Linked DNA regions of Homo sapiens. The protein of the gene in region 4 purifies or fractionates together with the protein of the main gene of each other region. This does not show direct contact. Each region holds a gene or a part of one and is shown on either strand. Other genes may lie near its edges.

Region 1 (3,500 bases), on a different chromosome or scaffold from region 4:
AGTTTCACAGTTTCAGGTCTAATGTTTAAGTCTTTAATCTGTTTTGCGTTGATGTTTGTATATGCTGTGGGACTAAGGTCTATTTTCATTCTTCTGCATCTGGGTATTCTGTTTTCTTGGCACCATTTATTGAAGACACTGTCTTTTCCCTATTGTGTCTTCTTAGCATCTTTGTCGAAAATCAGTTGACTGCCAATGTCTGGATTTATCTCTGGTTTCTTTGTTCTCTGTAGCTCTATGTGTCTGTTTTTATACTATTGTCATTCTGTTTTGATTACTATAACTTTGTAGCAGATTCCAGGTCAGGGAGTGTGATGCCTCCAGCTTTGTTCTTTTTGTTCAAGATTGCTGTGGCTATTTGGAGTTTTTTGTGGTTCCATGTGAGTTTTAGGATTGTTTTTTCTATTTCTGTGAAAAACGTAACTGGAATTTTGATAGGGATTGAGTCCAGTCTGTATGTTGCTTTGGGTACTGTGGACATTTTAACATATTATTTCAGTCCATGGACATGGGATGTCATGCATGTTCTTCCATTTTTTCATCAGCAATTTGTAGTTTTTAGTGTACAGCTCTTTCATCTCCATGGTTAGATTTATTCCTAACTTTTTTTTTCATAGCTATTGTAAATGGGATGTTTTCTTGATTTTTCAGAAAGATAGTTCATTGTAAGCATATGGAAGCACTACTGATTTTTGTATGTTGATTTTGTGTCTGCAGCTTTACTAAATTAGTTTATTAGTTCTAACAATTTTTTGGTTAAGTCTTTAGGGTTTTCTATATTAAGATCCTGTTTACAGCAAACAGGCTTCTCTATTTTTGATTTGGATACCTTTTATTTCTTTCTCTTGCCTAATGGCTCTGGCTAGGACTTCTAGTACTATGTTGAATAGAATTGGAAAGAGTAGGCACCCTTTTCTTATTCCTGATCCTAGAGGAAAAGCTTTCAGCTTGTCACCGTTGAGTATATTAGCTATGGGTTCGTCATATATGGCCTTTATTCCAATTTAATTTCTAGTGAGAGTGAAATGGGAATGTGAGAGAAATGGGAAAGATGAGCAATACATTTTAGAAAAGCAGAAGGGAATCACCGTATTCTATAAGAATATGTGGCTTTAAGCAATTGGTGATATTTAAAAGGGTCAGAAAATAGAATTACTCCATGTTGTATTTATTATTTTAAAATCTGAGGGCTGTTTTCTCATGTCATTTTACATGACTATGATTCATCTTTAAAAAAATATGGAATGTAGTGGCCAGGCACGGTCGCTGTAATCCTAGCCTGTAATCCTAGCACTTTGGGAGCCTGAGGCAAGAGGACCACTTGAGTCCAGGAGTTGCCTGGGCAACATTGTGAAAACCTGTCTCTATGAAAAATACAAAAATTAGCTGGGCGTGGTGGCACACAGTAGTCCCAGCTCCTCCGGAGGCTGAGGTGGGAGGATTGCTTGAGCCCAGGAGGCAGAGCTTCCAGTGAGCCAAGATCGCCCCACTGCACTCCTGCCTGGGTGACAGAGTGAGACCCTGTCTCTCCCCAACCTCTCCAAAAAAGGTGGGGGTATAAAGTAGGAGCAGCAAGTTTTAGAGGTAGAGAAAGTTGATCAAGAGACAGCCATTATCCTCAAAAGTGGGCAGAGATCTCTCCAATTTACTTAGAAAAAAAGTAGACTTAGAAGAGTTATGGATTGCTAAAGATACTATAATTTATAAGCTGCATCCTTTTTCTTATTTTCCACTCTAGTGATTCAGTTGTCATATCTAAAACTACCATTAAGACTTTTTTTCCTGACTTTTGGCAATCCAATAATTACTTGTCATTACATTGCTAAAAGTAACTTTAGTTTGCCCAATTTGCCTTTCCCCTTCCTCATCAAATGCATATAGAAACATGACCATTTTCAAAATGAGTTACAAGTAGGTACCTTTTAATTTCCTGTTACTGTTTTAGCATTAATCTGGCATTGCTTTTAATTCGTTTCTTTATTTCTCACAGGAGTATTCCACATCTTCATTTTATTCTACTAAAATTAGACTTAAAGATTTAAACCCAAATTTGTCTTTAATCACAAAATTAATTTTATAAAAATGACAGATCTGTAGTAGAAACTTTATGTTATCTACCTTTTATACTTTTGAAGCAGGTCTGCTTTTGTTTACTTTTTAAAAAATGTTAAAGAAATTATTTATATGAACCTTTTTAAGGTTCAAATTCATGATTAGATATAACAGACTGGGAAAAGAGGAATTATATGTAGAGAGAAAAATTTTGGTGATAAATTGCAGTAAAATCTTCATTCTATTTTACAAAATCACAAATTCACATTTCGTTTTCTGAAAAACAATTTTTATTTATTAGTAAGACAAACTCTTTCCAGTTAGTTCTGATTTAGATTTTATGATTACTTATAGAGAAATATTACTGAATTTTAATAGTTTTTGTTTCGTTTAATTAATTTGGTGATTATTGTTGACTCCTTTTTAAATTCTTTTTTAAACAGAGGACTGCTGTCCAGGTCTGTTTTGCAAGCACAGAGTGCTTCTCCAATCTTCACCCATGTTTATGCAGCATTAGTGGCAATTATCAACTCAAAATTTCCACAAATTGGAGAATTAATCCTCAAAAGGTTAATTCTTAATTTTCGAAAAGGCTATCGAAGAAATGACAAGGTATATATGAATGGCTTGTAAGTAGAATGATACATAGGAACAAACTAACAAACCAGTATCAACAAAAGTAAGCAAGGTTGATTTTGACACAGCTACATAACATAATGCTTTTTAAAAACTGTCTTTCATGAGAACTTCTTTGATCTGTTAAATATCCCTGGCCACTATTGATGAGCCACAAAAATGATGGCTATAACTGTAGAACTATAACTATTTAACCAGAAGGGATACTCTTTCATGTGTTTTATTTTGTAACTTTCTTATAATGTAAAAATTATACTTGTGTGGTACATGTTTTAAATAGATGATGTTAGTAGGCCATAGATTATGTAAATAAATGAAAATTGGGTTTAGTTTATAGGTTAACTTTCCACCTTTATTTTTCAGCAACTTTGCCTGACTGCTTCAAAATTTGTGGCGCATCTTATTAACCAAAATGTGGTAAGTAATTATCTTCAATACTTGGTCCCATTCAGTGGCATTAGACCAGAGGGTTGATGCCACTTCACTGATACCTCTCTATTTTTGCTTTGCTTTATAGTCCTTGGGATAAAAATGTTGGATGATATTTTCATTTTAAAACTATAATAAATATATTTAATGTTCTTTTTTTTTTTCTTTTTTTGAGATGGAGTCTCACTCTGTCGCCCAGGCTGGAGTGCAGTGGCACAATCTTGGCTCACTGCAAGCTCTGCCTCCTGGGTTCACACCATTCTCCTGCCTCAGCCTCCCGAGTAGCTGGGACTACGGGCACCTGCCACCACGCCCGGCTAGTTTTTTTTGTATTTTTAGTAGAGACGGGGTTTCACCATGTTAGCCAGGATGGTCTCGATCTC
Region 2 (4,131 bases), on a different chromosome or scaffold from region 4:
AGCACTTAGGGAGGCCAAAGCAGGTGGATCACTTGAGATCAGGAGTTCGGGACCAGCCTGACCAACATGGAGAAACCCCGTCTCTTCTAAAAATACAAAATTAGCCTGGCGTGGTGGTGCATGCCTGTAATCCCAGCTACTTGGGAGGCTGAGGCAGGAAAATCGCTTGAATCAGGGAGGCGCAGGTTGAGGTGAGCTGAGATCGCGCCACTGCACTCCAGCCTGGGCGACAAGAGGGAAACTCTGTCTCAAAAAAAAAAAAAAGTGATTAAAAAAAAAAAGGGAACTAAGTGCTTTGTGCTTTGGGAGGCTCAGAGTAGAAGGAGATACCTAGCTTGGGGAATGGAAAACCATGAAAGGCTTTGTAGGATAGGTAAGAGTTACGAAAAAGGGATCAGAGGTGGGACAATGGGATAGATGCAGCTTCAGGAAGATGAAACTGCTTGGACAAAGGCATGAAGACAGGAAAGCATGGGATATGTACCGGTGAAATAGACCAAGACCAAGTGATAAGCCCAGGTCACAAAGCCATCAACGAATGATAAAATAAAGTCTTAAAACCTAGATTTCTTCACCAGGACCAGAGGACCTCTTTTTTTTTTTTTTTGAGACGGAGTCTTGCTCTGTCACCCAGGCTGGAGTGCAGTGGTGCCATCTCGGCTCACTGCAAGCTCCGCCGCCCGGGTTCACGCCATTCTCCTGCCTCAGCCTGCCGAGTAGCTGGGACTATAGGCGTCCACCAACACGCTCGGCTAATTTTTTTGTATTTTTTTAGTAGAGACGGGGTTTCACTGTGTTAGCCAGGATGGTCTAGGATCTCCTGACCTCGTGATCCGCCCGCACCCGGCCAGGACCTCTTTTTAAATTAGGCCACAGTCCTATCTGAGAATAAGCTACATTCAATTTTCTTCCCAGATTAAAACTGCTTCAACGAATAGGAAGGTGAAGGCTGCCAGCACACAGAACTCAGTCAAGGCTGTTTATTGCAGCACTGCGAGCGACAAGTTGGAAACAATGTTTGTCAGCGAGCAAATGGTTGAATAAACTTGCTAACACAATCTGGAATATTATGCAGCTCCTAAAAATGAGTTAAACTGCCATTTATTGGATACACTTTGGATGTTCTGTTAAGAAATGCAACTTACAGAGAAATACACAAAACAGGATCCTATTTTTGTAAAGACAAACTAGAAATCCTGTGTACTTATTAATATCTTAGATCTGTGGAAAGAAGTGGAGTGGAAGCCTCCATTACAGTCTTGCCATGGGGGTGGAGAGCGATGACCATTTTATATTTTTACTCTTGTGAATTTAAAAAGCTAAGAATTTAAATAAAAACTGAGTGTACTGTTGTGAAGCCCACCTTCCTCTCCAGTTGTTCTGCCTGGGGGTGTGACAGCCACCAGCCTTTCTGCAGGTCAGCTCTTCACAGACCCCTTTCCGAAGCACAGCCAACACAAAGTGTGGCCAGGAATGTGCAACAGGACCCACACCCGGGGCCATCTCGTTCTGCAGAGGGAAACTGAGTCTCAGAAAGCCTAGTTACTCTGAGAGCTATGACTACCAGTCAGTTCTCCTGCCTTTCCCTAGTTGAGCATCTTTCCACAAAACTACCATTCTAGAGACAGAAATGATGCTGACTTGGTGGTCACTTTCCTGGCAATTAATTCCAATACAAAACCACCAATTACTTGACCAAAGTCTTTTTACTCAAGTATTCCACGTGGGTCGTTGCTCTTGGCTCCTGTGTTGTTAAGATATAATTTATTAAGCTAGCACTTACCCCTTAATCACCTAGACTGAAAGTGATCTTCACCTCACCTGCCTGCTCTCCTTCAGGAAAGAACTACATCTCACTGCCCAGCTTTTGGCCAATTTGGCCCTCAGTGGCTTCTCTAATCAATAACTTGGTTCTAGGCACTTCCTCCAGCAAGTACTTGCCATACTAACTTCTAAAGTAGAACTTTCAAAAAGCAGAAGGGGCAGATTTGAGGGGAAAAAAAAAAAGGGGCACTGTCTCGTGGCCCTCAGGCCCGAAATGTGCCCTTGTCTAAACAAACTCTTCGCCCAGCAGCAGCACAGGTTCGACTGCTCTTTTGACCTCAGACGCTGGAGAAGGCGGAGTGAAGGAATTCGAGGTCGAGTGGAAAAAGCCCGTGAACGGGCAACACGCACCTTGCGACACGAAGTTTCCCGAGCACCGCTGTGGCCCCGGCCTCGAGCTGCGGCACGGAAATGAGTAACCACAGCTCCTGCCCAGGGCACACCCGGCCCGGCTCGGCCTCGCTGCGTGACCTTGGACAAAGCTCGAGCTTCTTTGGTCGCTTCTTCAACCGCACAAGTTGCGGCTGCCTCTGCGCCCGTGAGCGCCGAGACCGTGAATGCGCGCGAGGCGTCGCCGCAGGCCCTGGACCACACGCGCACGTGGGCCACCGTACCTTCCGAGCCAAACGCCCCCCGCGCTGCGGTCCTCTCCTCCTGACACGGCGCCCGCCCGCTCCACGCTTCCCAAGCCCTGAGCTGGCAGCCTGGCAGCAGAGCAGGCCCCAGCGGGGCGGTCCGCGTCCCGCGGCGGGGAACCGCGAGCCCGGAGATGCCCAGCTCCGGGGCCGAGGCCGGGAAGGAGGCCCCGGGGCCGGGAAAGGCCCCCATCGGAGCGGGAGGTCGCGCTGCCACCTCCACCCAGGGAGACCAAGTGCCCCTTACCTGAGAGACAACGCCAAAGCAGGAAGACTGCGCCGCGCCAACCTCACGCACTGAGCCGCCATGACTGCCACTGCCCGTCGCAGTCGCCGCGCACGCACCAAGCGTGCGTGCAGGCAGCTATACCCACTTTTCTGCCCTACTACTTCGCCTCAGCCAATCCGTAATCGCTTTTCCTGTTATGGACAGGCAATAGTCACCAATAATTGTGGGTCACGGAAGAGCATCTTTCCCCACCCCCCGGTGGGCGGGGCCTGAGGCGTACCGGAGGCCCTGAAGAGGTGAAAGGTGAAGTGAGCATTGGGAGGAGCCTCCTGTGGGCGTGGCGATGCCGGGAGGAGCCAATGAGGAGGCAGCGTGAGGGGGCGGGGCCAGCGCCGGGGTGGGGCGCGCGCGTCGCGGGCCGGGAGGGACTTCAGAGCCTGGTTTTGGGTAGGAGTGAGGCGGCAGCTTGTCGTTTCCCGGCCCGCACCCGCCCTTGCGCTGACACCGCGGGCCTTCCTTTGCTCTGGGAACGAGCGTGGGGAGCCCTGTTCACCCTCACACCCCGGCTCCAGAGCGGCGCGGAGCACTCCATGTTTGCTAAATGAAAATGAAGTCTCGGCGCGAGCGCCACCCAAACGGCGGCGTAGTTGCTTGAGAACCGCGGAGGCAACCGCTTGGGAGGGCGCCCCGACCCCGAAGCTGCTTCTCCAGGCGCCCGAGGCGGAGAGAAGGCACTGGGGTCTCCGTCTCCACCAGTGATTTCTGGTGAAACAGGAAACAAAACCCGGGAAACAAATGGGACGAAATGTTGGCGGTTTTGATGCTGGATGATGGGAATATGGGCGTGTGTTTTGTACCTTTCTGTTATCTTCAGTTTTCTCAAAACACGAAAAACAGACTAAGAACAGCGCATAGAAAACATTGGGGCACAACTAAAGCTCATAAATGCACACGTTTTCATAACCTGACCGAGGTCCATGCTGCTGTAGCGCATACCCCCAAGAACAGAGGGCCGCGTGTTCTTATGGCCCCGGTGCCGGCCCCCAAGCGGGGTTCCCGCAGGAGATAGGGCCTGGCTCCCGCTTCAGCACCGCGTGGCCTGGAGTGCAGTTCTGGCGGCCAAGATCTGAGGGCTGTAGCCCGTGCCCTCACCAGGATCCCAGACTTAGAGTCCCTGCCCTCCCCGGGATCCCAGGGCTCGATCCTGTGCCCTCCCCGGGATCCCAGGGCTGGAGCCCATGCCCTCCCCAGGATCCCAGGGCGCGAGCTGGTGGCTTCTCAAGCGGAGTTTTGCCTGCTTGTTACATTAGTGAATGTAGGACCACTTGAGTAAAGGACCAAACCTTTATTCTTTTGCTTTTCTGCCATTGAAACCATTCAACCCATGCTGATTAATACCTACTGTTTGCCAGGTAATATGCCCCTTGCAGAAAGACGCAAACA
Region 3 (3,500 bases), on a different chromosome or scaffold from region 4:
ATCTCAGCTCACTGCAACCTCCGCTTCTGAGGTTCAAGCAATTCTTGTGCCTCAGCCCCCCGAGTAGCTGGGATTAAAGGCATAAGCCACCACGCCAGGCTAATTTTTGTATTTTTAGTAGAGACAGGATTTCGCCACGTTGGCCAGGCTGGTCTCAAACTCCTGGCCTTGAGTGATCTGTCTGCCTCGGCCTCTCAAAGTGCTGGGATTACACATGTGAGTCACTGCAGTTGAGGGCTGCTTTTTAAATGCAGACTTCAGTGAAAGCCGGGCACGGTAGCATATGCCTGTAGTCTCAGCAACTCAGGAGGACTGCTTGAGACTAGGAGTTTGAGGCTTCAGTGTGTTATGACTGTGCCAGTGAATAGCCACTGTATTCTAGCCCGGGCAACATAATGAGACCAGGGAAAGGGAAGAGGAAGGGAAGGAGGAAGGGAAGGGGGAAGGAGGAAGGGAGGGGAAGAAAAGGGAAAAAGAAAGAAGAAAGAAAAAAGAAAAGGAAAAAGGAAAGCAAAGGAAAAAGTGCTAAGGATTTAACAGCACAGCTAATGGTGATATGTCCAGAGATTAATGAAACCATGTCACAAGTCTTATAAACTTAGGCTGATTAATATAAATCCACCTTTTACACACACACACACACACACACACACACACACACTCAAAACAGGTTTATTCTTTGGACAATGAGGAACACTGAATCTCCTACCTGAGATTCTTGAATCTGTGTCAGTTTTTTCTTTTCTTGCTCCTCTTCTTGCTTTTTCTTCTTTTCTTTCTTTTCTTTCTTTTTGGCTGTTTTTAGTTTTTTCTTGATTTCAAATCTGGTTAAAAGATATTTGGTTTTTAAGTAGCAATGAAATGTATATAAAAACTGATTTCTATTAGATAGGAGAAAGGAACTAAGGGAAAGGAGCTAATAGATATTTTGGCTTTCCTGCAAGAAACTCTGGTGTACCTTTTAAGTACATTAAAAATATTTAATATGTTAATTACAACAAAATATAAAATATTTGATAGCATTAAGTTGGAATATGTTTAAAATGAGAGACTACGGGCCAGGCACAGGGGCTCACACCTGTAATCCCAGCATTTTGGGAGGCCGAGGCGGGGGGATCAAGAGATCGAGACCATCCTGGCCAACATGGTGAAACCCCGTCTCTACTAAAAATACAAAAATTAGCTGGGCATGGTGGCGCACACTTGTAGTCCCAGCTACTTGGGAGGCTGAGGCAGGAGAATCGCTTTAATCCGGGAGGGAGGTTGCAATGAGCCAAGATCGCGCCACTGCACTCCAGCCTAGCGACAGAGCAAGAATCCGTTTCAAAAAAAAAAAAAGAGAGAGAAAGAGAACATATATAGGGTATTGCTGTACTCATCTGCGCCACTCTAGCCTGGGCGACAGAGTGAGATTCCATCTCAAAAAATAAACAAACAAACAAACAGGCCCGGTGCAGTGGCTCACACCTGTAATCCCAGCACTTTGGGAAACCAAGGTGGACGGATCACGAGGTCAGGAGATTGAGACCATCCTGGCCAAAATGGTGAAACCCCATCTCCACTAAAAATACAAAAATTAGCTGGGCATGGTGGCATGTGCCTGTAATCCCAGCTACTCGGGAGGCTGAGGCAGAAGAATTGCTTGAACCCAGGAGTCGGAGGTTGCAGTGAGCCAAGATCACGCCACTGCACTCCAGCCTGGCGACAGAGTGAGACTCCGTCTTGAAAACAAACAACAAACAAACAACAACAAAAAACACACAATGAAAGACCATTTCACACCCACCAGGATAGCTATTATCACAAAAAGGGAGGCCAGGCACGGTGGCTCACACCTGTAATTCCAGTACTTTGGGAGGCCAAGGCAGGAGGATCACTTGAGTCCAGGAGTTGGAGACTAGCCTGGACAACATGGTGAGACCCTGTCTCTACAAAAATTTTAAAAATTGGCTGGACATGGTGGTACATGCTTGTAGTCCCAGCTACTTGGCAGGCTGAGGTGGGAGAACTGCTTGAGCCCAGGAGATTGAGGCTGCAGCCAGCCATGATCATACCACTGAACTCTAGCTAGCCTGGGCGACAGAGTGAGACCCTGTCTCAACAACAACAAAAAAAGGAAAAGACAAGTGTTAAAGTGTTAGTGAAGAGGTGGAGAAACTAGTACACTTATTGCCGATGGGAAATCTAAAATGATGCAGCTGCAGTTTCTCAAAAAGTTAGAAAGAGTTACCGTACCAGCCAGCAATTCTACTTTCCAGTATACACTCAAAAGAACTGAAAATAGGTACTCAAATTGTTGTATATAAACGTTCACAGCAGCACCAGTCACAATAGCAAAAAGGAGGAAACACCACAAATATAAATCAACAGATGGACAGATAAACAAAATGTGGTATATACATAAAATGGAATATTACTCAGACATAAAAAGGAGTGAAGTACTAATACATGCTAAATGGATAAACCTCAAAAACATACTAAGTGAAAGAAGTCAGTCACAAAAGACTACATATTATGATTTCATTTATATAAAATATCCAGGTCGGCCATGGTGGCTAATGCCTGTAATCTAAACACTTTGGGAGGCCAAGGCAGGAGGACTGCTTGAGGCTAGGAGTTCAAGAATAGCCTGGACAACATAGCGAGACCTCTTCTTTAATAAAAGTTTAAAAAATTGGCCAGGTGGTGGCACACGCCTATAGTCCCAGCTACTTGGGAGGCTGAGGTGGGAGGATTGCTTGAACACAGGAGGTCGAGGCTTCAATGAGCTATAATCATGCCACAGCACTCCAGCCTGGGTGACAGAACGAGACCCTGTCTTGATAACAACAACAATAATAATAAACATATCCAGAATAGGCAAATCTAGAGAGACAGAAAGGAGATTAGTGGTTGCCTAGGGCTGGGAGGCTTATGGGGAAATACAGGAGTGACAAAATGCTCTAGAATTAATTGTGGTGATGATTGCACAACTCTGTGGACATATAAAAACCAATGAATTATACACTTTAAGTGGGTTATTTTAAACAAAGTTATTTTTTAGAGTTAGTGATAGTTTACATTTACATAATGTTCTTATGTATATAATCTCTCTTGAGGTTTACAACAACCCCCAGGAGGAAGCTGAGGCAGGAAGAGAAAGTGATTTAACTCCGATCACCCCTCCAGCGAGTCTGACTTGACCCCTAGACCTTCTAACTGCAATGTCAGTGCCCTTTCTACAACCAGGCTACCTTTTATGCTTCCTGCCCCCATGAATAATCTAACAACTGAAAATGACATCTCACTACTGGTGCTGCTGGCTAGAGAACAGGATGCTAATGGTGCTTACATAAAAAAGACTACAAAGATTAAATGCAATCCATATAAAGAGCTTTTAAAGTAAAAAAGATTCAGGAAATTCCAGAGTTTCCATATTGCACTGCCCTGAAGCTAAACAAACGAACTACTAAAATATCAATTTTCTATGATGGCTCTGAACCTCTGTCTTAATAATCAGC
Region 4 (3,500 bases):
CCAAATCATGTATTGGTCATTTAAATGCCCGCTGGGCCTCTCTTTTCCATTTGTGACCCTTGGTCTTGATAGAGAGAATGATCCCTCCATTGTCCCTTCTTCCAAATACAAGGAGAGAGTGGAAAGTATGCCAAAAAATAGAGCATGCACTGTAATTATCTGTCATCAGGGGAGAAAAGTTGAACTAGTCCAGGCCTGAAACCACTTGTATACATAGGCTCAGATGCCTTCATGAAGGGAAGACTGTTCCTTTGAGGGATTGGGGGGAGAGAGTGTGTATAAATAATTTGTTTTTCAAGATTGTTCCCAGAAATCTTTCCAGTATTTGGGCATATTATTGTCTGTGGAGTAATCCCTTACCAAAAGCCAGAGTCTGACTGGCCATCAGGAGAGGAGCCACGGCTTCCAGGGAGCTGGAGCTGCAGAGTCAAGAAGTTTCATAATTTCTGGGGTTGGAACATTTAAATGTTTATTGCTAAACATGGGGCTAATACTCTGTCCCAGTTAGTCACAAGGCTAAAGCTGGTTCAAAGGGCATGTGTACTCAGCAGTCCTAAGGAAGGATGAGGGGGCCGGTGGAGCAAAGAAGGGAAACACAGCCTTCTTCTTTACTTTGCAGCAATGGTTTCTATAGGAGAGGATTTGGTTTTATCTGTGCTAGGTTCCACTGTTGTCTATGTGGCCTTGGATAAGTCTCTGGAGCTCAGTTATCTCTTGGAGTGAGTCAATGGTTATGGCCAGGGCAGACATTCCCAAGTCCCTCTTCTGGCTTGAGATACAGTAACATACTATCTTTTGAAAGTCCCTATACTGACAACTCTAAAGCACATGTTTTGAGTTATTTTTCCAACAGCGGGGATAGATTTACGCTTTTAATGCCCATTTTCACAACTGAGTTCTCTGGTGTGTCTGGTGCACTGCCAAGATGTAAGAAGCTAACAAAATCAAAGAGGATTCAGACCTATATCCTCATTAGCCACCTTAGCTCTGAGCTACTCAGAAAGATGACTTGCTGCAAAAATCTGCATTTTTAAGACTCATAGTTTGCCAGAGGGCCATGTTAGCTCAATTCCAAGGAATTCAAATACATTCCAGTGGGGTGTGTGTTGTATAGACCAGCTGTGTCATACATTTGGATGAGATGGGACACCCCGAAGACTGCTCATTAGGGCCAGCTGGCACAGAACAGTCTGCTCACCCCTGAATAAGCTATCCACTGCCCCTTATGCCTAAAGGGGAATCCTTCAGAAGGGAACCTGCATTTATTGAGCATCACCTGTGTGTCGGGTGCCAGGTTAGGAGCTCTAGGCAGGTGGTTTCCCCCAGAATCCTTAGGAAGTGAACACTGTTATCCCCATTTTAGAGATGAGAAAGCTCAGGCTTAAAGAGGTAAGGTAACTTGCCCCTAATCACACAGCTGTAAGCAGCAGAGCTGGGATCTGAATCCCACTCTACCTGGCTCCAAATCATGCACTCTTCTTGCCACATCATACCTCTTCCATAGGGCTGTCCATGACCTCCTGCTGGAAGCGCATTTGTACTCCAACCATGAAGGGGGTGGGGCAGCAGACGGTGGCCAGAAGGCTCTCAGGGACAACAGGGATGTAGGTGTGCGCCCAGCTGAAGGGGTAGAGCAGTGCGGCAGCAGCATGGATGCACTGAGACAAGGTGCTGGGACAGAGCACAGAGGATGAGAGTCAGGGGGCCCCTGCACCACCATGCTACACACCCCTCATCGCCCACCACCAACAGCAGCTAGAGCAGTGCTGCCCATGCCCATGGGCAGAAAGGCAAGTCTGGGGGCCATGCTGGTCACAGAGCTTGAACGTACATTGCTGGGAGGGAGGGACAGAAACTAGAGAGTCTGAGGCTTCACTATCAAGAAGGGCCTTGATTTGACCCTTCTTTTCCCAGTTAGTCTTCTCAACTTACTACTGGCCAAAAATAAAAGTGACTCTGAAGAGAAGAGGGAAGAAGAGTTGCTTTCATTCAAGGAGATAATTGATTGAGCCCCTAGCCTGTGCTCACAACTGTGAGCATACCTCACAGATGTGGATACCAGGAAGAGTAAGACACTGACCCTGCTTTTAAGGAATTCACAGTGTAGTTAAGAGACAAACATGTAAACAAGCACTGGAGGCTCAGCCGAGAGGCAAAGCCTTTTTACCTCGCTATGTCTATCCACCCTCATCCCCAGCCTTTGCCCCCACACAGCCCCCTCTGGGCACACTCGAGGTTATTAAAGATTACCAGGTTGCTGCCTGAGTAGCTTGGGAAATTCCCAGGTTCTAGGAACCTCTGCCCAGCAATTCCTACACGGAAAGTCCCACAAAGGTGCCTCCTCAAGACTTTCCAGTGAAGCATTTCTCGTCACTCCTGCCCAAGTCACAACTTGGACCCTACTCCTCTCGCCACCACATACACACAGTCCCACTCTCTGTCTTTCTCTTTTATCCCCTGGCTTTCATGGCTCTTCTTTACTCCAGCCAAATTGCCTCAAAGTCAAGGCCAATAAAAGCACAGATGCGGGAATCCTTGTTTCAGTTCTGGGTTTCAAGCTGGCACTTCCTGAATTAGCAAAATTGAGTCTCTGAGAGGCTAGCTGACTGGAAGTCCCCTCCCTGTCCGAGCTTCAGGGAGCTGAAAAACTCAGTGTGGGAAGGAAGTGGGGAGTGGTGGGATTTCCCTGAAGAAAGTAAACGTCTGAGAGGTGAATCCTGCCGACCTCCACTTCCCAAACACTGATCTGAGGAGGAAAGGCAGAATCCCAGCTCTAGCCACACAGGAATTTCTGGTTTCCATTCAAGGCTGGGAGTGAAAGAGCTATTTCCAAAGCAAAAGATGATGCCACTCCCTTCAAGGATTACCTACAACTAGTTCCTCTTTGGTTATCACCCATTTTTACAGAATCTTCAACACAGAGACCCCACTGCTTGCCCAAGTTTCCTTTCCTCTGAAACCCATGGCATTCACCTGCCCCTCTGACTTCTGTTGAGTCCCTAACATCCTTTTCTTCTTCCCTAAAAGATAAAAGCAGGGTTGTCAACCTAAAATCACTGGTTTTCTCCCTCCCCAGATATGAATAGAAGGTCTACCCCTACCCCTACTGTTTTATGACTTCTTTCATTCTCCATTCTATTACATCTCCCCACGTCCTTCTCAGATCTGAAGCCCCTAAAAGGTAGAGACCATGGCACAATAGTACCCTGCTTCCACTATACACAGGGATATACTCAACTGTGAACTTAAGAACAGAAGCTAGCACTCAGCAATATGTGCTCAGCAGGGTGTTAGGTACCTAATGTGCATTATTTCATTTAATCCTCACCACAACCTTATGAGGTAATCACAATCATTATTTCCATTTTTAAGAAGTTAACAAACTAACTTAATGGGAACCTCATAGCTAAAGGTAGAAGAACTGGATTTAAACCTCCTAATTCTGCTGATTTCAATCCCTGTGCTTTCAACCAGTATGTAATTCCGCATCCCCTTCAGGT
Region 5 (3,500 bases), on a different chromosome or scaffold from region 4:
CTGAGGGGACACATACTCATAACCTCATCTAACCCTAAATACCTCCCAAAGGCCCAACTTTCAAATACCAACACAAAGAGGGATAGGGCTTCAATGTATGAATTTTGGCAGGGGGTGGGGACACAGATAATCAGTTCCTAACACACAGAAAAGGAAGTAGAACCTGGATTATTAATGGCTGCTATCTGCCCATGACAGGCAGATTTCTAAGAAGACCCACGTCCCTCCCCTAAGTGAAGGCAGGACCCGTGAATATAATGAGATGTCACTCCCATGATTGCGTTATGGTACGTAAAGAAGGTGTAGGGATTTTGCAGACGCAATTAAGGACTCTGAGCAAATCAAAAGTGACATGATTCTCAGCGGGCCTGAACTAATCAGGTGAGTTCTTTAAAAGAAAGACTGGGGTCATCACCAAGGTCAGAGATTCTCTTACTGGCCTTGAAGAAGCAAGCTATCATGAGTTTTACAGCTGCAATGAAATGAATTTTTCCAACAATCATGTAAACTTGGAAAAGAAGCCTGAGCCTCAGCTGAGCCTTTAATCTTGACTGCAGTCTTGTGAGACCCTGAGCAGAGACCCACAAAAAGCCATGCCTGGACTCCTACCCCATGGAATCAGTGATATAATAAATACAGGAATACACAAGGTTTTAGGCGGCTAAGTCTGTGGTGCTTTATTACACGGCACAGAAAGCCAATATGCTGCCACAACAAGCTTACTTAAAAGACAAGACCTAAGAACAATTCAGATAGATGGCAAAAGGTGGGAAAAGCTAACTAAATAACCATAATTTTATGTTCCAAACTAATGCTGCTTAAGAGTACAGGATCACAAATTCTTGCCATCCATCCTTCATGCTCCTTAGCTCATGAGCTCCTCTGTGCTTGCTTTATAATTATTTTTTACGTTTAGCTTACCCAGGCCTTTCTACCAAGGACATAGAATAAGACAAAGCTGGTAGGCCGAGTGCCCTGGCTCACGCCTATAATCCCAGCACTTTGGGAGGCTGAGACAGGCGGATCACAAGGTCAAGAGTTCGAGACCAGCCTAGCCAAAATGGTGAAACCCTGTCTCTACTAATCATACAAAAATTAGCTGGACGTGGTGGCGGGCACCTGTAATCCCAGCTAATTGGGAGGCTGAGGCAGGAGAATTGCTAGAACCCGGGAGGCGGAGGTTGCAGTGAGCCAAGATTGCACCACTGCACTCTAGCCTGAGCAACGGAGCAAGACTCTATGTCTCGAAAAAAAAAAGAAAAAAAGAAGTTTAAAAAAAAAAAAAAGACAAAGCTGGCCATTTAAGTTAACAGCTACTATAGCCTAAGTATTTCTTCATGGTCAAGTTAACTGGGAATACTATGAAGGGACAGTAAAACATGAAGGCAAAGCTATGATGTGGTTACTTTCTCTATCTTTGTATTCAAAACATAAAATTTGGCAAGCTCACTGAAAAATACCGCCCAATTCTAATTACCTCATCAAACAACAAAATAATGGCTTCTTCTAAGACAGCTCCAATGATTCATTTCTTGTGAAATCCCTTCCCCTTAAGTGTGTGCTAGATTTATTAACTCACTTCCAATGAGCTCAATATAGTCAAGTGATAGGTGGTCCCTTAGAAGGTCACTTTTATAAAAAGCCTGTGGCTTTCATCGTGGGGACTCTCTCGGCTCACTCCCCCAGGGAAGGTGCTGCCAGGTACTGCAGCACTGCGGAGAGGCCCAATGGCAAGGAGCCAAGGCCTGCCAGTGACCCACCAGTAGGCTTGGAAACAAACTTCCCCTTCTTCTCCCAAGCTGAGCCTTCAGCTGAAGTCACAGCCATGGCTAACCATTTGCAACCTCCAGGGCGACTGGAACCCCGTTAAGCCACACCCAGATTCCTGACTCACAGAAACTCCGAGGTAATAAATATTTGTCATTTTAAACCAGGATGTTCTGAGGTAATCTGATATGTGGCAATGGATAACTAATACCACCACCAAATGTAAGGTAAAAACATTAGATGCTTTGAGGCAAGAGTAAAAAAAAAAAAATTCAAAAAGAAGACAAAAGGTCTCACCTTAAGCACTCTTCCTGAAAGGCCAACAATCTCACCATCCTTTGGCTCTACTTCTGTAGCAGTATTCACATCGCCACTTCCTGTTGTATCAATGATATCAACGATTTTTGGTTTTCCATCAGTTGTAACCTGAAAATTAAGAAAATTAAAATATGAATGGTAGATTTTAGGTTTTTATTCCTAAACAATGCAAATCCACATATATATGTGTGTGTATATACAAAATCTACATTCACTTAAAAAAGAGAACTGAACTGTTTTAAGCCAAAAGCCTGAACAAATACTAGTAAGAAAATTTAATCGTGGAAACACTACAGAATCCTTCAAGTCGTTTCATATATTCAATAAACAAATATTTACTGAGCATTTACTATAGACCACACCCTATTTTAGGTGCTGGGGATATGGCAGTGATCCATACGCAAAAATCCCTGACGATCTTATAGCGAGAAAGCAGTTCAGTTAATAACAAAGTAAAATAAAGAACATGTCAGATGTGCTATCACACTGGGTATTAGGGAAAAAAAAGAACATGTCAGATGGTGAAAATTAACTATGGAGAAAAATTAAGCAGGGAAGGGAGATGGTCAGTGTGGGGTTTTCAACATAAGTTTGGCTGGTCAAGGAAGGCCTTGCTGAGATGGTAACATTTGAGAAAAGATCTAAAGATGGTGAGCTGTGGGCTGGACAAGTTTAGAGCTTTAGGGGGAAAAAATGTTTAGTAGTAATGGTACCATTTAATGGCACCATTATTGGATGCCACACTAGCACCTCAAACGCAACAAAGTTCAAGCTTAACATGCCCCCCACCACCTGATTTTCTCCAGGCTTTGCCATCCCAGGAATCCCCACGCCCAGCTGTTCACACTGGAAACTTAACAATCCTCCTCTGATTCTTTACTTCAGTTGACTCCTCACAGCGAAGCTAACAGGAAATCCTGTTAATTCTTTGTCTAGAAGAGAGCTCAAATCCATTGCATTTTCACTACCACTATCCTAACTTTCCAAACCACCACCATCTCTTGCCTCCATGAGGTGAATTACCTAAGTGGTCCCTCAGTTTCCACTCTTGGCCCCATCAAAAGTAATACAGGCTGAGTGACCCTAACCTGAAAATTCCAAATGCTCCAAAATCATGGACATGAAGTTCAAAGGACATGTTCATTGGAGACTTTCGAATTTGCGATACTCAACCTGTATTAAAACAAGCTGTATTTTATCAGTCCTCTCCTTTAAGCCCATCAATGTATTCATGGAGCACTCAGAATACTCGCATAAAAAGCCTCGCACCATCTGACCCCTGCCACCCCGTTACTCAGGAGTCTAACCACGCCAACCTCCTTTCAATTCCTGAAACATGCCAAACTTTTTCCTGCCTCATGACTTTTTAAACAGGTTCCTTCTGCCTAGAATTCTTTATCTCTTCAGTTGTTCCA
Region 6 (3,500 bases), on a different chromosome or scaffold from region 4:
AAAAAGAGAGAGAGAGAGAGATGGAGGTCTCACTGTCTTGCCCAGGCTGGTCTTGAACTCCTGTCCTTAAGTGATCCTCCTGCCTTGGCCTGCCAAAGTGTTAGCGTACCTGCGCCCGGCCTGAATGCATTTTTTTTTTTTTTTGAGACTTACTCTGTCGCCCAGGCTGGAGTACAATGGTGTGATACTGGCTCACTGCAACCTCAGCCTCCTGGGTTAAAGCGATTCTCCTGCCTCAGCCTCCTGAGTAGCTGGGATTACAGGTGTGCACCACCATGCCCAGTTAATTTTTTGTGTTTCTGGTAGAAATGGGGTTTCACCATGTTGGCCAGGCTGGTCTCAAACTCCTGACATCATGATCTGCCTACCTCGACCTCCCATAGTGCTGGGATTACAGCAGACCTGAGCCACCGTGCCTGGCCCTTAAATGCAGTTCTTTACATTCAATACAGTACTTACTAGTCTTGTTTCTTTCTTTTTTTTTTTGAGACAGAGTCTTGGTCTGTCGCACAGGCTGGAGTGCAGTGGCGCGATCTCAGCTTACTGCACCCTCCGCCTCTGGGGTTCAAACGATTCTTCTGCCTCAGCCTCCCGAGTACCTGGGATTACAGGCGCCTGCCACCACACCCGGCTAAGAGACAGGGTTTCTCCATGTTGGCCAGGCTGGTCTTGAACTCCTGGCCTCAGGCGATCTGCCCGCCTTGGCCTCCCAGAGTGTTGGGATTATAGGCGTGAGCCACTGCATCCCGCCTGGAGGCTTATTTCTAATGATTTGGTATTATAATCCACATTGCAGGAAAAACCTTCTTGTATTAGTGTTTGTACCCTCAAGTAATGGATAAGATTACATTCTTAGATAGTACATTGCTAGAGTAAAGAGAGAGCCTTTTTTTTGGCAGAGGGGTAGAGATGGGGGTCTTGCTATGTTGCTTAGGCTGGTCTTGAACTCCTGGCATCCAGTGATCCTCCTGTCTCAGCTTCCCAAAGTGCTGAGATAACATGAGATAACAGGCATAAGCCACTGTGCCCAGTCAAAAGTGATTTTTTTTTTTTTTTGAAATGGAGTCTTGCTCTTGTTGCTCAGGCTGGAGTGCAGTGGCGCGATCTCCTAGGTTCAAGTGATTCTCCTGCTTCAGCCTTCTAGGTTCAAGCAATTCTCCTGCTTCAGCCTCCCAAGTAGCTGGGACTACAGACATCTGCCATCATGCTGGGCTAATTTTTGTTTTAGTAGAGATGGGGTTTCACCATGTTGGCCAGGCTGGTCTTGAACTCCTGACCTCTTGATCTGCCTGCCTCGGCCTCCCAAAGTGCTGGGATTACAAGCATGAGCCACCGTGACTGGCTGATTTTTTGTTTTGTTTTGTTTTAGGACTTTGATCAATATAGATTGGCAGGCAGGGGGTTAGATGGTTAGATGGTGCCGCAAACATAGGAGTAGCCCGTTTTTTACATCAGAAATTGGGAAATCCACAAATAGAATATTTTTCTCCTGATTTATGCACGTAGCAAAAGTTTTATGAAGATGTAACATTTATACCAAATTTAGTAATTATGTATGTAACAGGCCACATTTAATGAAAGCATAACCAGGATAAAATAATTTCCTTACCCAGCTCTTTTTCTTCTACAGACACAGCAGGATGCCAATGCCTCTTCCCTCTTAGACATCTATAGCTTCTGGCTCAAGTAAGCCTTTCCTGTTCCATTTTGGCTATTTTCTCCCCCAAGATAGGCTGGGCTGTGTTTCTTGGTTTGGGAAGATTCCAGTCCCCTAGAAATTGGTCCAATCTACCTCAGCAGGTCTGCCAAGGTCCCAGAGCGAAAGTTACAGGCAAATGGACCAGTGGCTAAGAAAGCTAAGAAGAAGGCCTCATCCAGTGACAGTGAGGACAGCAGCGAGGAGGAGGAGGAAGTTCAAGGGCCTCCAGCAAAGAAGGCTGGTAAGGCAGAGTAGCAGGTGGGCTTGGTGGTGCCAGGAAAAGAATTTACAGCCTGCTTGTTTCACATGGCTGATTCTTACTGGGACCTGTGTGTTTGTTCAGCTGTACCTGCCAAGCGAGTCGGTCTGCCTCCTGGGAAGGCTGCAGCCAAAGCATCAGAGAGTAGCAGCAGTGAAGAGTCCAGTGATGATGATGATGAGGAGGACCAAAAGAAACAGCCTGTCCAGGTTTGCAGCTTTGGGAAGAAAAAGGGGTTTAAGGATTAGAAAGGAAGAAACCTAAAATCTTGGCCTCTAGCTTGTAACCAAGGGGTGATGGCGGCAATACAATAGGTGATTATGAGGAAGAAAATCTGGGGATTTTCAGGGAGCTGATAAAAGTATGAGGTCTGGAAGGGATGTGTGAGGTTGAGGTCAGGCTCCGAATCTAGAGGAAATTAAACCCATTCTGCTTGAGGAGTTTGGGTTCTTCTGGGACACTATTCAGGGCTCCAAGAATAAGAGAGAGTGTTTTCCTGGGAGCTTTGGCAGGATAAGGCAGGAACAGGGCCAGTGTATCAAGTGGCTGAACTTTGTTGTTTTTTGCCCTTTCCGTATCCTGTCCTTAGCTTTCTTTTGCTCTTACTGCTCCATTAGGCCCCTAAAAATAAAAGGAACCTAGGATGCCCTTTGGGTACCCGGAAGCTTTTGCTGATTTCTCTCCTTGTGTCTTTTCTAACAGAAGGGAGTTAAGCCCCAAGCCAAGGCAGCCAAAGCTCCTCCTAAGAAGGCCAAGAGCTCTGATTCTGATTCTGACTCAAGCTCCGAGGATGAGCCACCAAAGAACCAGAAGCCAAAGATAACACCTGTGACAGTTAAAGCTCAGACTAAAGCCCCTCCCAAACCAGGTACTGTTTCTGTTCCCAAGAGGCTGGGCTGGGGACCAGATTGCTCTGGGGACTGGAGTTAAAATTGCCGATTTGGCACAGGGGTGAAATGGTACTGTTTGTTGAACTGGAGGTGTTGATTACTGGTCTTTTAATTTTAAAGGTTTTACTAATAAATAACAAGATTTCATAGGAGCTAGTAAATAGAGAAAGTTATTGCAGCAAGAAAAAATGTGTATTTTTTTTAATGGTATCCATTTGGTATTTTGTGACATTTCATAGACATTTTATGTTTTCACACATCCCATTCCACTGTAATCACTTAAATATCTATTTGTTGTGCTTTTCACTGCCATTTTTACTCTTGTATGTTCATTCTATGAGACAAATGAGAATTTTTCTTTTTTTCTGTAACTTGTGATGAGGGTTAGGTTATTTCTCTGAATGGAGGTTGAAGTGAAAGATTTTAGAGGGCGTATTGAGATTATTTATGTCATCTTTTCTAAGAAGACAGTTTTATTCCTGCCATGGGATAGGAAAGGTATCCTTTGATGTGGTAAACCATGGCTGGCATTCTCCTCGATGGCTGCTCTAAAGTTGAAAGAATTGGTGGACTCCTGGCCAGGCACAGTGGCTCACACCTATAATCCCAGCACTTTGGGAGGCTGAGGCGGGCGGATTGCTTGAGGTCAGGA
Region 7 (3,500 bases), on a different chromosome or scaffold from region 4:
CTCTGTCTCCAAAAAATAAAAAAAAAAAGACCATGCATCTACAGCTATTTGGCTTGAAGGTATGACCTGTGATTCCTGCAGCCCCACTACCTACTGTTCCCCAAGAGAATAATTTCAGTTTTTAAAATATTAAGATTATAAACTGGTGTGGTGGCACATGCCTGTAATCCCAGCTACTCAGGAGGCAGAGGGAAGATCACTTGAACCCAGGAGTTCAAAACTAGCCTGGGCAACACAGTGAGCCCTCATCTGGGAAGAAAAAAAAAAAGAAAATATTAAGATTGAGAGGCAAAATACCATCCAGAGAAAAAGAAATGGTTCTCCTGGGTCTGCTTAGTTACCATTCCTGTCAGGTGCACCTTCCCTGGCAATATTCTCTATTTCTTTACCTGGATCACAGACAAAGAATAGAGCTATCCTTTTACAAACAAAAGTGCATGCATTTGTCCTTTCACAAGTAGAAGTGAATTACCTAGGTCACTAGTGACGAAAGAGTTGATTCCAAAAAACAGATCCCCACTTTTCTTTTTTCGAGATGGAATTTTGCTCTGTCGCCCAGGCTGGACTGCAGTGGCATGATCTGGGCTCTCTGCAACCTCCTCCCCTTGGGTTCAAGCGATTCTCCTGCCTCAGCCTCCCAAGTAGCTGGGATTCCAGGTGCCTGCCACCACGCCTGGCTAACTTTTTGTATTTTTAGTAGAGATGGGGTTTTGCCACGTTGGTCAGGCTGGTCTCGAACTGACCTCAGCTGATTCGCCCGCCTCGGCCTCCCAAAAGTGTTAGCATTACAGGCGTGAGCCACCATGCCCAGCTATCCCCACTTTTCATTCTAACTCTTTGCAAGGCAAACTGAGTGGTATTATCAAAATCTAAGTCCACCCTTAAAATCTACAATTTACTGTCTAGGATTCTGTTATGCAGAAACACTGACATGCCCATCTGTCCAACCTGATGCTCCCTACCCATTGCCTGCCAAGGCCAACGTGAATGCCTGGGTTCAAATGCTATTTCTGCCACTGTAATTTTTTTTAAAATCATTACCTCAGCCTTTCTCATCTATAAAAATGGGGATAATGACAATAATTACAGTACTCAGTGACTTATTATGCAGAGAGAGCATGCCTGACTCAGAACAAGTGATATCCAAATGTTAGCTCTAATTTTTATTAGTACAATGAATGTTGTTAGTCCTATCATGGGTAAGTTGGTGAATTTTTAAAAGTTGTACAAGTCTGTACAACTTTTCTGGAAGCTAATTTGACAGTACTTATCAATTTTTATATGTACCTTCTCTTAGACCAATGAGTATTTCTTCTAAGAATAAATCCAACTGAATAATTTTCCAAGTACAAAAAAAATACAAGAATATTCACTAAAGCACTATGTAGCAAACAGAAAAGAATGACATACATCACACACTTTATATACTGAGATAGCCCATGATAGGTAAAAAAGCAAGGTGCAGAACAGTATGTTATGATATTTGTAGTTTAAAAGTATAAGTACATATGGTTGCACATGTATAGAAATCTGGCTCTAAGATATACCCCATACCCCAAACTTAACCAAGGATACTTCTGGAGAGTGAGGTGTGGGAAAAAGTATATGATAAAAGTAGTAGGAAACTTTTTATCTTGGACTATCCAAGGAGCCACTAACTACAGCAATATGAAATGAGAACTCGTCTCTAATATTTTGTTTTGTTTGAGATGCGGTCTTGCTCTGCTGCCCAGTCTGGAGTGGAGTGACACGATCATGGCTCACTGCAGCCTCAACTTCTGAGGCTCAAGTGATCCTCTCACCTAAGCCTCCCAACTAGCTGGGACTACAGGCATCCATCACTGAGCCTAGCTAATTTTTTTTGTTTGTTTTTTGGGGTTTTTTTGGTAGAATAAGGGTCTCCCTGTGTTGCCCAGGCTGCTCACAAACTCCTGGACTCAAGTGATCCTCCCACCTCGGCCTCCCAAAGTGTTGGTATCACAGGCATAAGCCAACATGCCTGGCCCATCTCTAACATTTAATCAATGTGTTTTTTTGTTCGTTTGTTTGTTTGTTTTTTGAGGTAGGGTCTCACTCTGTCGCCCAGGCTGCAGCGCAGTGGCACCATCTCAACTCACCGAAGCCTTTACTTCCCAGGCTTAAATGATCCTCCCACCTCAGCCCCTCAAGCAGCTGGGACTACAGGCATGTGCCACCATGCCCAGCTAATTTTGTTGTATTTTTCTGTAGACATGGGGTTTCACCATGTTGTCGAGGCTGGTCTCGAACTCCTGAGCTCAGGCAATCTGCCTGCCTCAGCCTCCCAAAGTGCTGGATTATAGGCATGAGACATGGCGCCCAGCCTTCATCAAGTATTAATTGCCAGAGTTAAAAGGGTCAGGGAAGACAGAATGCACTGTTTCCTTACAGAATTGATTCTTCAAAAGGGAGTTTCTCAGGCCGGGGGCAGTGGCTCAGGCTTGTAGTCCCAACACTTTGGGAGGCCAAGGCGGGAGGACTACTTGAGCCCAGGAGTTTGAGACCAGCCTGGGCAACTTAGTGAGACCTCTCTACTAAAAATAAAAAACTGCACCTGTAGTCCCAGCTACTCAAAAGGCTGAGGCAGGAGGAGCCCTTGAGCTCAGGAGTTCGAGGCTGTATAAGCCAAGGTTGCGCCACTGCACTCCAGCCTGGGCAATGGAGTGAGACCCTGTCTCAAAAAATAAGGGAGTCTCTCTGAATCTACTGTAATTCTGAGGGCTGCACGATTAAAAAAAATTTAAAAATTAATTAAAAAAAATTAAAAACCGCCAGACACAGTTGCTCACTCCTGTAATCCCAGCACTTTGGGAAGCTGAGGAGGGCAAATCACTTGAGGTCACAAGTTCGAGACCAGCCTGGCCAACATGGTGAAACCCCATCTCTACTAAAAATACAAAAAAATTAGCCTGGCATGGTGGCGGGTGCCTGTAATCCTAGCTACTCGGGAGGCTGAGGCAGGAGAATCGCTTGAACCTGGGAGGCAGATGTTGCAGTGAGCCAAGATCGTGCCACTGCACTCCAGCCTGGGCAACAGAGTGAGACTCTGTCTCAAGAAAAATAAATAAATTAATTAATTAATTAAAATAAAATAAAAAAACCAAATCTGCCAACACCCTGATCTTGGACTTGTAGTCTCCAGAAGAGTAAGAAATAAATTTCCATTTTTTAAGCCATACAGTCTGTGGTATTTTGTTATAGCAGCCCCAGCAAACTAACACAGGGGGCTCCAAGCCAATAGAAGCACCTCCTCCTCCTCCCAGGACAGTTAGAGACCACCTTTAGGAACTCGCTGTCAGAAACCTGGGGGCAGATGAAGCCAGATTCCTGGGGCTTAAGAGAATGGGCTATGAGGAAACAGCAGTGGAACACAAGTGTGTGGTGCATCCAAAGCCTCAAAGGCTGTTTCTCAGGATTCCCACAACCTAGTTCCACTTTTCCTCATTAGCCTTCTCAGTACTGCCAATGATCCCAACAGAATG

What was found.
Region 1: the proteins of DENND2D (region 4) and CWC22 purify together in Homo sapiens (affinity purification with mass spectrometry; 3 studies listed by BioGRID and IntAct, with this or other methods). This does not show direct contact.
Region 2: the proteins of DENND2D (region 4) and GRPEL1 purify together in Homo sapiens (affinity purification with mass spectrometry; 3 studies listed by BioGRID and IntAct, with this or other methods). This does not show direct contact.
Region 3: the proteins of DENND2D (region 4) and RTF1 purify together in Homo sapiens (affinity purification with mass spectrometry; 3 studies listed by BioGRID and IntAct, with this or other methods). This does not show direct contact.
Region 5: the proteins of DENND2D (region 4) and TPP2 purify together in Homo sapiens (affinity purification with mass spectrometry; 3 studies listed by BioGRID and IntAct, with this or other methods). This does not show direct contact.
Region 6: the proteins of DENND2D (region 4) and NOLC1 purify together in Homo sapiens (affinity purification with mass spectrometry; 3 studies listed by BioGRID and IntAct, with this or other methods). This does not show direct contact.
Region 7: the proteins of DENND2D (region 4) and COIL purify together in Homo sapiens (affinity purification with mass spectrometry, with the first as the bait; one large-scale study listed by BioGRID). This does not show direct contact.

What each region holds. Positions count from the first base shown.
Region 1 is NC_000002.12:179,972,798-179,976,297, reverse strand, and holds part of CWC22 (pre-mRNA-splicing factor CWC22 homolog), read left to right. Parts: intron 1-2,495; coding exon 2,496-2,664; intron 2,665-3,051; coding exon 3,052-3,105; intron 3,106-3,500. UniProt on the Homo sapiens protein: Required for pre-mRNA splicing as component of the spliceosome. As a component of the minor spliceosome, involved in the splicing of U12-type introns in pre-mRNAs. Promotes exon-junction complex (EJC) assembly.
Region 2 is NC_000004.12:7,065,265-7,069,395, forward strand, and holds the start of GRPEL1 (grpE protein homolog 1, mitochondrial precursor), read right to left. Parts: upstream 2,801-4,131; 5' UTR 2,769-2,800; coding exon 2,707-2,768; intron 1,363-2,706; exon of another isoform or gene 916-1,362; intron 1-915. UniProt on the Homo sapiens protein: Essential component of the PAM complex, a complex required for the translocation of transit peptide-containing proteins from the inner membrane into the mitochondrial matrix in an ATP-dependent manner.
Region 3 is NC_000015.10:41,462,095-41,465,594, reverse strand, and holds part of RTF1 (RNA polymerase-associated protein RTF1 homolog), read right to left. Parts: intron 825-3,500; coding exon 710-824; intron 1-709. UniProt on the Homo sapiens protein: Component of the PAF1 complex (PAF1C) which has multiple functions during transcription by RNA polymerase II and is implicated in regulation of development and maintenance of embryonic stem cell pluripotency.
Region 4 is NC_000001.11:111,190,647-111,194,146, forward strand, and holds part of DENND2D (DENN domain-containing protein 2D), read right to left. Parts: intron 1,672-3,500; coding exon 1,494-1,671; intron 420-1,493; coding exon of another isoform or gene 361-419; intron 1-360. UniProt on the Homo sapiens protein: Guanine nucleotide exchange factor (GEF) which may activate RAB9A and RAB9B. Promotes the exchange of GDP to GTP, converting inactive GDP-bound Rab proteins into their active GTP-bound form.
Region 5 is NC_000013.11:102,603,486-102,606,985, reverse strand, and holds part of TPP2 (tripeptidyl-peptidase 2), read right to left. Parts: intron 2,194-3,500; coding exon 2,065-2,193; intron 1-2,064. UniProt on the Homo sapiens protein: Cytosolic tripeptidyl-peptidase that releases N-terminal tripeptides from polypeptides and is a component of the proteolytic cascade acting downstream of the 26S proteasome in the ubiquitin-proteasome pathway.
Region 6 is NC_000010.11:102,155,389-102,158,888, forward strand, and holds part of NOLC1 (nucleolar and coiled-body phosphoprotein 1), read left to right. Parts: intron 1-1,630; coding exon 1,631-1,686; intron 1,687-1,797; coding exon of another isoform or gene 1,798-1,800; coding exon 1,801-1,940; intron 1,941-2,042; coding exon 2,043-2,167; intron 2,168-2,660; coding exon 2,661-2,826; intron 2,827-3,500. UniProt on the Homo sapiens protein: Nucleolar protein that acts as a regulator of RNA polymerase I by connecting RNA polymerase I with enzymes responsible for ribosomal processing and modification.
Region 7 is NC_000017.11:56,954,551-56,958,050, forward strand, and holds part of COIL (coilin), read right to left. Parts: intron 1-3,500. UniProt on the Homo sapiens protein: Component of nuclear coiled bodies, also known as Cajal bodies or CBs, which are involved in the modification and assembly of nucleoplasmic snRNPs.